Homo sapiens: one gene and its partners. The protein of the gene in region 2 interacts with the protein of the main gene of each other region in a pairwise test. Each region holds a gene or a part of one and is shown on either strand. Other genes may lie near its edges. The genes, in order: SREK1IP1, MACROH2A1 and ZNF622.

What was found.
Region 1: the proteins of MACROH2A1 (region 2) and SREK1IP1 interact in binary tests that used the Homo sapiens proteins (3 or more experiments, as listed by UniProt).
Region 3: the proteins of MACROH2A1 (region 2) and ZNF622 interact in binary tests that used the Homo sapiens proteins (3 or more experiments, as listed by UniProt).

Annotation. Positions count from the first base shown.
Region 1 is NC_000005.10:64,720,029-64,723,856, forward strand, and holds part of SREK1IP1 (protein SREK1IP1), read right to left. Parts: 3' UTR 1-3,828. UniProt on the Homo sapiens protein: Possible splicing regulator involved in the control of cellular survival.
Region 2 is NC_000005.10:135,392,451-135,396,278, forward strand, and holds part of MACROH2A1 (core histone macro-H2A.1), read right to left. Parts: intron 1-3,828. UniProt on the Homo sapiens protein: Variant histone H2A which replaces conventional H2A in a subset of nucleosomes where it represses transcription. Nucleosomes wrap and compact DNA into chromatin, limiting DNA accessibility to the cellular machineries which require DNA as a template.
Region 3 is NC_000005.10:16,463,715-16,467,314, forward strand, and holds the start of ZNF622 (cytoplasmic 60S subunit biogenesis factor ZNF622), read right to left. Parts: upstream 2,087-3,600; 5' UTR 1,952-2,086; coding exon 1,327-1,951; intron 29-1,326; coding exon 1-28. UniProt on the Homo sapiens protein: Pre-60S-associated cytoplasmic factor involved in the cytoplasmic maturation of the 60S subunit.

The DNA of each region.
Region 1 (3,828 bases), about 71 Mb from region 2:
ATGTTTCTCTGTAACTCTGAAGCAGTTGTGCTTCACAGGTTAAGCCAAATTTTAAAAGCAAGGGGCCTTATTAAATTACAGCACATTTTGTACACTGAAAAATATTCTAAATGGTTTATTCGGACCTAACAAATATTAAAATAGTGATAGAATTTAAGTCAGTCAAAAATAACCTAAAATACAATTAAGAACAAAACACATCTCAAAGTATGTACATGTACATATAACTCTGGGGATGGATCTAATAAAGAATACAGTAGCTTTATGTGTTTTTAGATGATTTAGGTTACTGTGTAATTTTTGGAAATAATAATGAGACTGTAGAAAGAAATGTGAGTCTAATAATAGAGCCTAAAATAATCAAATTATATTTTATGTAGCCTTCTAATGAAAGCAATTTCATCTTTTAAAAATGGTGGGATTAATCGGATTATGAAATTGATAAAACCAAACCCTAATAAAAGTCATTTCCTTCCTTAAAATCTTTTTTTTTTTTTGAGATAGAGTCTCGCTCTGTCGCCCAGGCTGGAGTACAGTGGTGTGATCTCAGCTTACTGCAACTTCCACCTCCTGGGTTTGAGCGATTCTCCTGCCCCAGACTCCAGAGTAGCTGGGAATACAGGTGCCTGTCACCACGTCCGGCTAATTTTTCTATTTTTAGTAGAGACAGGGTTTCGCCAAGTTGGCCAGGCTGGTCTTGAACTCCTGACCTCAGGTGATCCGCCCGCCTCAGCCTCCCAAAGTGCTGGGATTACAGGCGTGAGCCACTGTGCCCGGCCCCCCTTGAAACTCTTTAATGGTGTCTCATTGCTTACACATTACAGTTCAAGCTCCCAAACACGGAACACACGACTCCTTCCTCCTGTTCCTAAGAACTTAAAATGGTAGTCTCAATTCTTACCACTTCCTGCCTCGCCTATGATACACCAGCAACACCAGATTGCTTGTAATTCTTGACAAACACATAACACAGCTTGTTCTACCTCTGGTGTTTGTTCACAGTACCCACTCTGTCAGGAACTGCCATAACCCTCATTCTTATCCTTAATCAAATTGCAATTCAGTCACTACTTTCTCTAGGTAGCCTCTTCTAATTTATCCAGACTACTTTAGGTAACCCCGAGTTTCTATAAACTCATGTTCATGTCAATTACTGCACTAATTATATAACGGTGTATGCTCTGGTGTTTCTCCTACCAACTACACTGTGAAGTCCTTCAGGGAGGCAAATGTGTCTTACTTATCTCTGTATCCCCAGTACTTAGCACAGCGTTTGCCACGTTAGGTACTCAATAAATATTTGTTGAAGAAAGGATTCAATGGCATTTTTATCAACATTATTAACAACTCTTCAGCCTAGTTTACTCTGAAGGTAAACTAGGGTTATATAATTTTAGATACAGTTGTAAATACAAACACATATAGTTGTTTTACTTCTCATTTATTGTTGTTTTGACCTCAGAGAGTCAAAGATGTAAATGGAGATGTATATTAAGTATGAAGAAATAGGGATACCTCTGAGAAATATCAACCAACATATGATATGCAAAAAAAAAAAAGGGGGAAATTGTGTGGTGAGAAGGTCCATCAACCCAAAAATAATGGCCATAAAGTGCCAGATAATCTAGTTCCAGATGCAAACCTAAATATAAATTCTGCCTGCATTTGGTGAAAATGACATGCATTAGGTTGTAAGAATATGAACCAAATATCAATTATCTGCTTGAAGAAGTTGAACGTGTTTATTATATTAATAAATTCAACCTTTACTATTATAGAATGTTATAATAATTTCTAAAGTGAATATTGCTTGAATTTTAAAATATTGATAATTATATATATTAAACCTTGAAGTGATTTCAGAGATAATCTGGTACAATATTTTATAGACGAAAGACACCAAGGCCCAGGGAAACTAAGTGACTTTGTTCAAGATCATACAGGTAGTTAGAATGACCAGGACTGTTTTACTGCTAAATTCAGTTTTCCTTCTGGTACATACTGCCTGGGAGGGAATTTCATTAATTTTCTTCTAAAACATATTCATGAGATTTGCATCCAATCTCAATAATAATATCATATTAGAAGAAAATTACTTCAGTGAAAATAAATTTTTATTCAATTTCATAAACTATGCTAAAATTATGGGAAATTTACTTAGAAATGCCAACATCATTTCTGGGGGGAAAATTACTGATCATTAAAATATTTTAATTTGCATACTACATTAGTTAACGAGGACTGACTTTTGCTCTTCTCAGTCATTATTGTGTCACCATTCAGAAACCTAATGAGCCAATTTATAATCTCTACAATTAACAGTAATAAAACTTACAAGTAATTAACTATTTCACTACAATTACTATCATTTTTAACTATCTTACTCAATGGAATAAGGTCATTGCCTTTGTAGCATTTTCTAATTATTTTTTAATATTTTATTTTACTGTTATTTTTTCAAGGCTAGTCAAGTCAAGCAGTGGGAGTAAAGAAACACCACTGCACTTGTGCCAGCCTCGTTTTTAAAAAAGCTTTATATTAAAAACCGATTTTTAAAATCTTGATAATCGAAGAATATTTTCAAAAAACTAGCAGCAAAGGCAAAACAAATCCCTAAAAACCTACTGGCTCTGTATTTTTTCTCCCAGTAACTGACTGACCTATTTAAACAAAAGCATTTCCTTTTGAGAGGCCCAAATGACTAAATTAGGTTATGGAAGGGTTGAAAGCGTGAGAGCTCTCATGGCTGCAATGCAGAGGGCTGTGGATACAGCTTCCCTAGAATTTAAGCATGGGTAAGCATATGTTAAGAGGAGTTATAAGGCTCCCTGAGTCTTACTGAGGGTATCCACATTGGGTGCCAGGTGAAACAAGAATCAGTAAACCTTTCTAGCCTGTGAGGTTAAGTATACTTAGCTGATTTCACTATCATGAATTCACCTGCAGCCGTATCTATAGGTTATCAATTTGAAAATTTCTAAGCGCACCATAGTGAGGTATTTGCAATCTTTGGTGCTGTGCCATGACATTGGTTGATGTTCGATGCTTCTACAACATAAGCATTTACTTTAGTGGACATAAGGGCTACCTAAGTATTAAGCAAAGTAACACTGATCAATGTGAAAATAGAAATTTAAAAAACGTATCTACTAATATGTGTTTGAAAATGCTTACCCATATAAAATTTCCATTATTATACAAAGGCTTTCATGATGCAACTCCCTGGCTCTTAAATTTTAAAAAGTACAGAATAAAATTCTCAATTCTTTTTTTGACACTTTTTACTCTTGAGTTTGCCACTAAAGTAAAAGAGAGAAACATCCCAAACTGGTCATTTATGAAAACGTTAAGTTCAGTGTGAAACTTGCTTTAAAACTACAAATTATGTCAGACAAAATAAATATATATGCTCACATTTATAAAATTTTCCACAGTACTCATAGAAACAAGCTTCATAAAATTTATACTGAATACAATAAAAATCAGTTCTAATAAAGATTTAGCTATCTTCCTAAATAAAAATTTCTGTGTTTGAGGTATCACTGTAAGACATGCCAATATGGCACATTTGTAAAACAACCCAGGAGTCTATTCTAAAAATCACAACCAACTCAGCATCATCTCTGCAGACTTACTAACAGGCTGAACTAATCTCTTTATACAAGAAGTATTTTAATTATTACAAAAACAAAGGAGGCAGGTACTAGAAATTCTGCATTTCATAGAAGAGTAAAACTTTGTTAGAGATATTTTCATGATCATCTACCTGCAGACACCATTCATTTAAAAAGTCCTAGTCAAGACCATTAAGCAGCTGCATCTTCTACA
Region 2 (3,828 bases):
CCTCCCCATGTTCTTCCTGCACTTCTAACTATAGTTCCCCAAGCTGCAGCCACAGCTATGAAAGAATTCTGACTAAGCCATGAAGCCTTATGACATCCAGCAATGTGTGGTGGTTTTCAAAACACCCTTTTGAAAACCAACTCATAGTTGTGCAGTCTCCAGATAAACCCATGAATGTGCCAGGTCCATCCTGCTCTTCAGAGGTTTATGCAGGTGTGGGTAGCTCCAGTCAGGCACCCATGACAAGGGGGAGAGTGACTGTGAGGCCAATGGCAATTAAGCATTATAATTAAAAACTAGAAGTCCAAAGCCAGACTGACCTGATTATAACCATGGCTCTGCCGCTTACTGGCTGTGCATTTTTGAGCAAGTGATTTAACCCCTCTGAACCTATTTTCTTATCTTTCAAGTGGAGATGATGCTAGTAAGGGCCTCAAAGAGTTGGTGGCAGAAGTGAATCAAAGCATCCATGTAAGGGCCTGATACTCACTCACTGGGCAAGTTCTCAGTAGTTAACAAAAACAATAATGTGAATAAGATGAAAAAAGGCCATCTTCTTGCAGAACAGATCTTGGACATTTGCGCTGAAGACATTGCTAGCTGCTGTAACAGATAAGTCTCTACAACTTATTTCTCACTCCCGAAAAATCCAAAATGGGTTTCCATGATTGGCTGGTGTTTCTTGTCCACATAGTGATTCATGGATCCAGATGCCTCCCATCTTGTTACTCTCACATCTTCAATACATGATTCCCAGGGTTGCCATGGAAAGAAAAAGACCATGGATAATAACCTATGAGGGTTTTAAGGGGCCAGGCCTGCAAATGGGGCACATCACTTCTGACCATGATCCATCAACTAGAACTTAGTCACATGCCCACAACTAATTGCAAGAGAGGTTGGGAAATGTACTCTGGCTATTTACTCAGAAGAAAAGAGGAAACAGCCAGTCTCTGTCACATGATAAACCAATCTGAACGCTGACCCTAACCCCAGAATGAGTTACCACCCAAAACCTGTTGGGCCCTGTTTGACCCATGTTCTGCATCCAGCCTTGTTTGAGAAACAGACAGCCCTACATCATAGACAAAGCAGCTTCCTAAGCACTCATCACCTCTGCAGGGCAGTGAAGCTGGTCACAGGAGAACAGCTATACTATCTGGTCAAACTTGACAAAGATGTGTTCTTCCTTCCTTCAGTAAACCAGGAGGCTTCACTCATGGCTCTGCATGCTTTGAAAACAATGATAGGTCCTCAGGCAACTGTGTCTGTTCATCATTGCACATTAGCTTGACTGCCCTTTTGGCTGTTATTGGCCTAGAAAATGAAGGTTCTGTGATTGATCTTGAAGGGATCTCTGTGGTCTTTATTTCTGCAACTCTTCCAATTATAAATCACAATAAACATTAACTTTGTTTATAAAACCTCAAAGCTTACCCAAAGACAAACTTTTATAGAGGAGCTGGATGGAGAGATGAGTCAGGCTACAGTGAGAAGCAACAGAGTCTGACCACAGGCCCCTCAGCAATCGAGATGCGACTGGAGCAACGCAGTCAGTTCTTTTAGCACAGGACTAATTAGAAGGCTGGCTATGTAGACCCCATGAATAAGGTGGACATGAGAACAACAAGCTGTGTACTACTAGGAGGGGCAGTAGGGGCAAAGAACCAAAGTGCCATGGAGGCCCTGCCACACCCTCCTATCCCTTCCCAGCAGGCATCCTAACAGGCTGCTCCCTGCACTGCAAACCACCTTCATTCCCACTGGCACCTTCAGCACACCCAGCATGCTCAGTCTGAACATCTCTCTAGCCCTTTGTCTGGAGTAATCCTGCCTACTGGTCCCAATACCTTCCCTGGCAATGATCCATCAATGTGCTCCCTCTTCTGCATTCCTGCCATGGCCATGCCTTCTGTCAGTCACAGTCTAGTTTGGGGCAGCTGCATGTCCAGACTCCAACCTTGTGCACAGGCCCTGTTGACCTCCAACACATCTCTCTATTTGCAACAACCAGAGATCCACCGGGATGAATTTCTCCCTCCCAGTTCCCTCAATGGATGTGGCAGCTGCAGACCCAGGGCCCAGCTAAAAGTGCCTCACAATCTCCCTCAGGCTGCCCCTATTCTTTAATATACTCAATTATTTTTCTTAGTCTTATATACAGTACTCTGCAAATGCAGTTTCCAGCCCTTCCTTCCATCATGATTGCCAGTCACTCTAGATCCCATTTACATATAAGTTCTGAAACCAGCTATCCCATTCTTAGCACTCAGTGCATGGTATCATCATTGCCTATTTACCTGTCTGTCTTGATGAAACGAACCAATTTGCTCTACTCACCACTGTATCTCCAAGCACCCACCACCCTGCCTGGCACCCGGTAGACATGCACATGCCAGCTACAAGGTAGCTGATTAGTTGGCACTGACAGTGGATAGGGAGAAAGGAGAGGGCAGCATTTCCAAAGCCCACAGGACTGGGAGCTATGGCTAGTGGGACACCAATCAGAGACCTTCTCTTGGACATTCATGTACATACACCTGGCAAAATCCCTATAGGAGCCCAGACACTCAAAATTCAGGGAGCTTGTAGAGCTACCTTGGGGATTCTCAGGAAAGGAACACTCCAATTGCCCTGATAGCTGGGCATAAGGCACACTGAGGCCTTATGACTCTGTGACAGTTCTATGGTTCCAGTGACCTCTCCTCCTGCCTCTGGCTCAGTACCATAGACTGCAGGAAAATACTTAACCTTCCTCACATCTATAAGAGATTGACTCCTGTTTAAGCTACAGCACAGAAACCCCTTAAACAATCAGGGCACTCATGAAACCGCTGGAATAGTCAATCATGAAGTATTTTATTATCTAAGCAATGAATACATGCCTATTGATCCCATGCAATATTGATTAGAACTGCTGGGGAGTTGCTAGTCAAAGAGCCCTATCTCCAGCCCCTGAGGATAGAGGAGTCTGAGCTATCAGTGCTCAAATAACTGCTGATGAGGAAGAACCACGCCATCCATTCTGGCAGCTGGATAAATGCCCGCATATCCACATGCATTTGTCACCTTCCCATCAACTCCAATCACAAAGGCCAACCTGAGAAACTTAATTCTGAAGGACAAGACACTAATCCTGTTTACAGCATTCTCTTCCCTCTTCCGTTTACTCCTATCACACCAAATGATTAACGGTGTCACCCGCTGTCATGTCCCCAGAGGCATGTGGATATACTAGACAACCATTGCTCACAGAGCTGGGGTTCACAAGCTGCACTCTGATTGGCTTGGATCAGAGACCTGTTCTAGTATTCTAGCCAATCAGGAAAAATATCTCTCTCCATTCATAAAACACCATATCAAAAAGTGAGCCAGATGATTAAAGAACCTACAGTCCACTCTCAGTGAACTAGGGGACTGCAAACAGAAGAGACAGACCAACTGAGATAGTAAATAAATCATAAACCATGCATTTTGTTCCAGCAGATGTGTCTTACTCCTGTTATGTTTTCAGTGGCAGGAAGAAACAAAACACAAACACAAATGTCATTTACCACAAGCAAGAAACAGTTTTGGGGAAGCTAGTCTGGGATTGAAATTTCACCTCTGCAAACCCATTCGGTGATGCGCTTCCCGAGATGCACTGAAGGAACTGTGCAGCTTGCTACATTTTAACAGCAAGTTACTGCCTGCCTGCTTTACAAAAAAACTTTTCTACATACTCCTCTCTCTTTTAAAGGTTGTGCCAAACTCTTAAGATAACCAGTCTCACGGAAGGCTATTTAGAGAAAAGTTAAAGTGTGGGCTTCACAGGACAGGACTCTGATA
Region 3 (3,600 bases), about 120 Mb from region 2:
TCTTCATCAGAATCAATATCTTCCCAATCTGCAAGCCAGAATTTTGAAATATAAAGTTTAAGAAAAGTAGTAGCAAGCAAAGATATCACAAAAATTCACGAGGTGATACAGTCCTATATTTGGAGAAACAGCCACACCCCAACTCCCAAGGACAACTCCTCTTTCAAGATCTCAATTTTAGCTATTTGTTTACCACAGACTCATCTGAATGGCCATGAAACTCCTTAGTCTTTCTTTTCCAGGAAACAGGAATCTTTTCTTTGTTTCTTTCCTATGCCTTACAGCACCTAGCCCAGTGCTGAAAATATAGTTAGGAAGTCTCCTACCTGCCTGGATATTTTTATAAACTTCTAAAACAATGCCTCTATCTACTATTTCACAAAAGTACTATGGGGTGTGTGTATGTGCTGGTAGGGTGCTCTATGAACGGCTATGGTTTGAATGCATGTTTCCCTCCCAAAATTCAAATGTTGAAACTTAATCATCAATGAAATGGCATTAAGAGGTGGGGCCTTTAGTGGGTGATTAGGTTAGGCAAGCACTAATCCTGAATAAATGGATTAGTGCGAGGGAACTGGCTAGCCCCTTTTTTGCCTTCTGCTTCTTCCACCACATGATGACACCATGAGAAAACTTCATCTATAGAACAGGCCCTCACCAGACACTGACTCTGCCAGCACCTTGATTTTGGACTTCCCAATTTCCAGAACTATGGGAAAATACATTTATGTTGTTCATAAATCACCCAGTCTCTAGTACTTCCTTATAGCAGAGTGGACAGACTAAGACATGAACACCTACACCAGCACTGTTAATAGGATGTGGGATGAGGGAAGTAAGGAATAAATAGCTCATAAAGGCAAAGAGGTGAGGGTGCTGGCTCCAGCTCCAAATTTCTGGCTGAGTTGGTTTTGATCCCCTCATTCTGTTTTACTCAACTAAATTAAGTGCAAAACCATCATAACTGGAAACCCACTAGAATCGCAAATTACACGGCAGCTGGTATGACGATAGCATGTCCTCCTGTGCATATGTTAAAAGCCTCTTCATCCAAAACACAGAAGGCATCAATTCATTCTCCAAATATGCATTAAGCACTTCTTTTTCCAGACAAGGTTTTAGGCCTTGGAGAATGAATTGAGTGAACTAAACAGCCAAACCTGCTGGCCAGATAAGGCACTTCAGAAAGCGTCTAAACCACCTTCCCTCATCATTTTTACTTAAAAGCTCTCAAACACACACACACACCCATCTCGAGTATAAATCTGGAAACTTAAGGGTGGGCCAAGTTCCTCTTTACCCTCCCCGCCCAGACAGGGCCATCACCGTCTCCATCCAGGTCCTCTTCCTCCTCCTCGCTGTCCTCCTCCTGCTGCTTTGCCAACTTCTTCGCCTGCTGTTCAAACCACTGGAGCCGGGGTGGTTTCTCACTCGGGTCTCGGTCGTGGGTCCCACGGCCACCAGTACCCACGGCCACGACATTCCTGGCCTCCTTTGCAGGCGCTGGGGGCGCCTTCTTGGGAGACATGGACGGCTGGGCCTTGATGGCCTGCTGGATGGCCGCGTTCATGGCATCCTTGTCCACACTGTCCACGCCCAGTCCTTTCTCCAAGTTCTTTTCATTCATCATCTCCACTTTCCGATTCACTGCCTGCACGGCCTTCTTCTCCAGCTCAACGTGACGCCGGGACTTGAGGTGGTTCTCGTAGGCGTTGAAAGAGGCAAACTTCTTACTGCAAACGGTGCAGTAGGTGGCCGAGCCCTTGCTCTCCTCCTCCGCGACGGCCCGCTGCGCCCGCACTCGCTCCTGGAAGCCCTCGGCGGTCACTGGGGCCATGCTGGCCACCTTCCGCCGCAGGTTGTAGCGGTGCCAGTCCGTCTTATAGTGGGCCCGCTGCATGTCCGCGTCGCGGAACGCCACCCGGCAAGTTATGCAGGTGTACGTCGCCATTGCCAGGCGAGAAATAAGAACCGACCAAGCCAAACACCTGGTGATCAGCGCCGTGGCCCCACAAGACCCTCAGACCTTAACCCGCCTCAGCAGCCAGGAAGAGCCACTCGACACGCCGACTTCCTGATTGTCACTGAGGAAACTTCCGGCACACGTCGGAAGTTATTCACAACTGGACAGGAAACCCGCCTCTCAGGCTGTGGCCACGCCTCCGCCGCCGTGAGGCCCAGGAAGCCGAGGGAACGCTGTGGCTGAAAGGGACCTGGGTCCGCTCAGTCAGCCCGAGGTGGCTGTTGATTGAGGGAGGTCGCGCCCTCCCAGTTACCTTCCCTGGTGGTTGTGCCGCTCGGTGTGACGCGGTCAAGGGGACGGCTACGCGAGAATGGGGGAGTGGGGCGCCCGAGGCTGCTCCTGGGCCCTGGGAAGCCCCCGATTAATGAATGGTCGGGTCAGCGACGCGAGGGTCGGGGTTTCTCTGAGGACCGCGCGCTGCACCTGCGGAGCCGGGTGAATGGATGTCGCGAAGGCAAGGGCTGCCCTTACCCCTCGGGGCCGACCTCGGAGCCCTCGCCCGTGGTTGCAACGCTTTCCCGGGAAACCGGAGAAGCCAGGCCGGGGGCTCGGCCTTTCTGAGGCGGCCCTTCCGGCGGAGGACACCGGCGGAATTTGAGTGCACAGAGTGCGCGAGAGGAGCTCCCTGTAGACACACAGTCCAAGCCACGTAGGTAATTCTAATAGCAGCCACATTTTTAAAGAGTAAAGAGAAATCGGTGAAACTGCTTTTAATGTGTTTAATTTAGCCCATCCTGTCATTTCAGCATGTAATCAGTCTAAAAGAATTAATTAGATCTTTTACGCTCTGTCGTTGGTTCTAAGTCTTGGAAATCCAGTGTGTGTTTTAGAGTTAACAGCCCATCTCAATTTGGACTAGACCCGTGCCAGGTGCCCAGTTGGCTGTGTACCCTCATGTATATAGGACAGCAAAGTTCTGTAGAAAAGAACTTCAGGCCAGGCGCGGTGGCTCACGCCCGTAATCCCAGCACTTTGCGAGGCCGAGGCGGGCGGATCATCTGAGGTCAGGGGTTCAAGACCAGCCTGGCCAACATGGCGAAACCCAGTCTCTGCTAAAAAATACAAAAATTAGTCCCGGCGCAGTGGCGCAGACCTGTAATCCCAGCTACTTGGGAGGTTGAGGCAGGAGAATCGCTTGAACCCGGGAGGCGGAGGTTGTGGTGAGCCGAGATCGCGCCACTGCACTCCAGCCTGGGCAACAGAGCAAGATTCCATCTCAAAAGAAAAAGAAAACATGAACTTCAAATGCTTGGGGAGGTCGTAGATTTCATCCACACAGCCTGGTTGAACCAGAGTCAGCCTTGTTAGAGTCGAATGTTGCATGCTCAGAATCCAGGCTGCCAAGAGAAAACCAAAAGAAGATGGCGCTTTAAAAAACCTTCCAGTGCCTTCCCTTGACTCAATCAAATTCAAACACCTTACTTTCTATTCTCCGAGGCTCTACCCCTCCCTCTGAGGTCCTGCCACACCCCCTTCTCTACCCTGCTCACCCTACTTGAGTCGCAATGACACATTTGATGTTCTTCTAACAAGCACTTTAGTTGGTACTAAGTCAGAAAGTCAGAAATCCATTACTC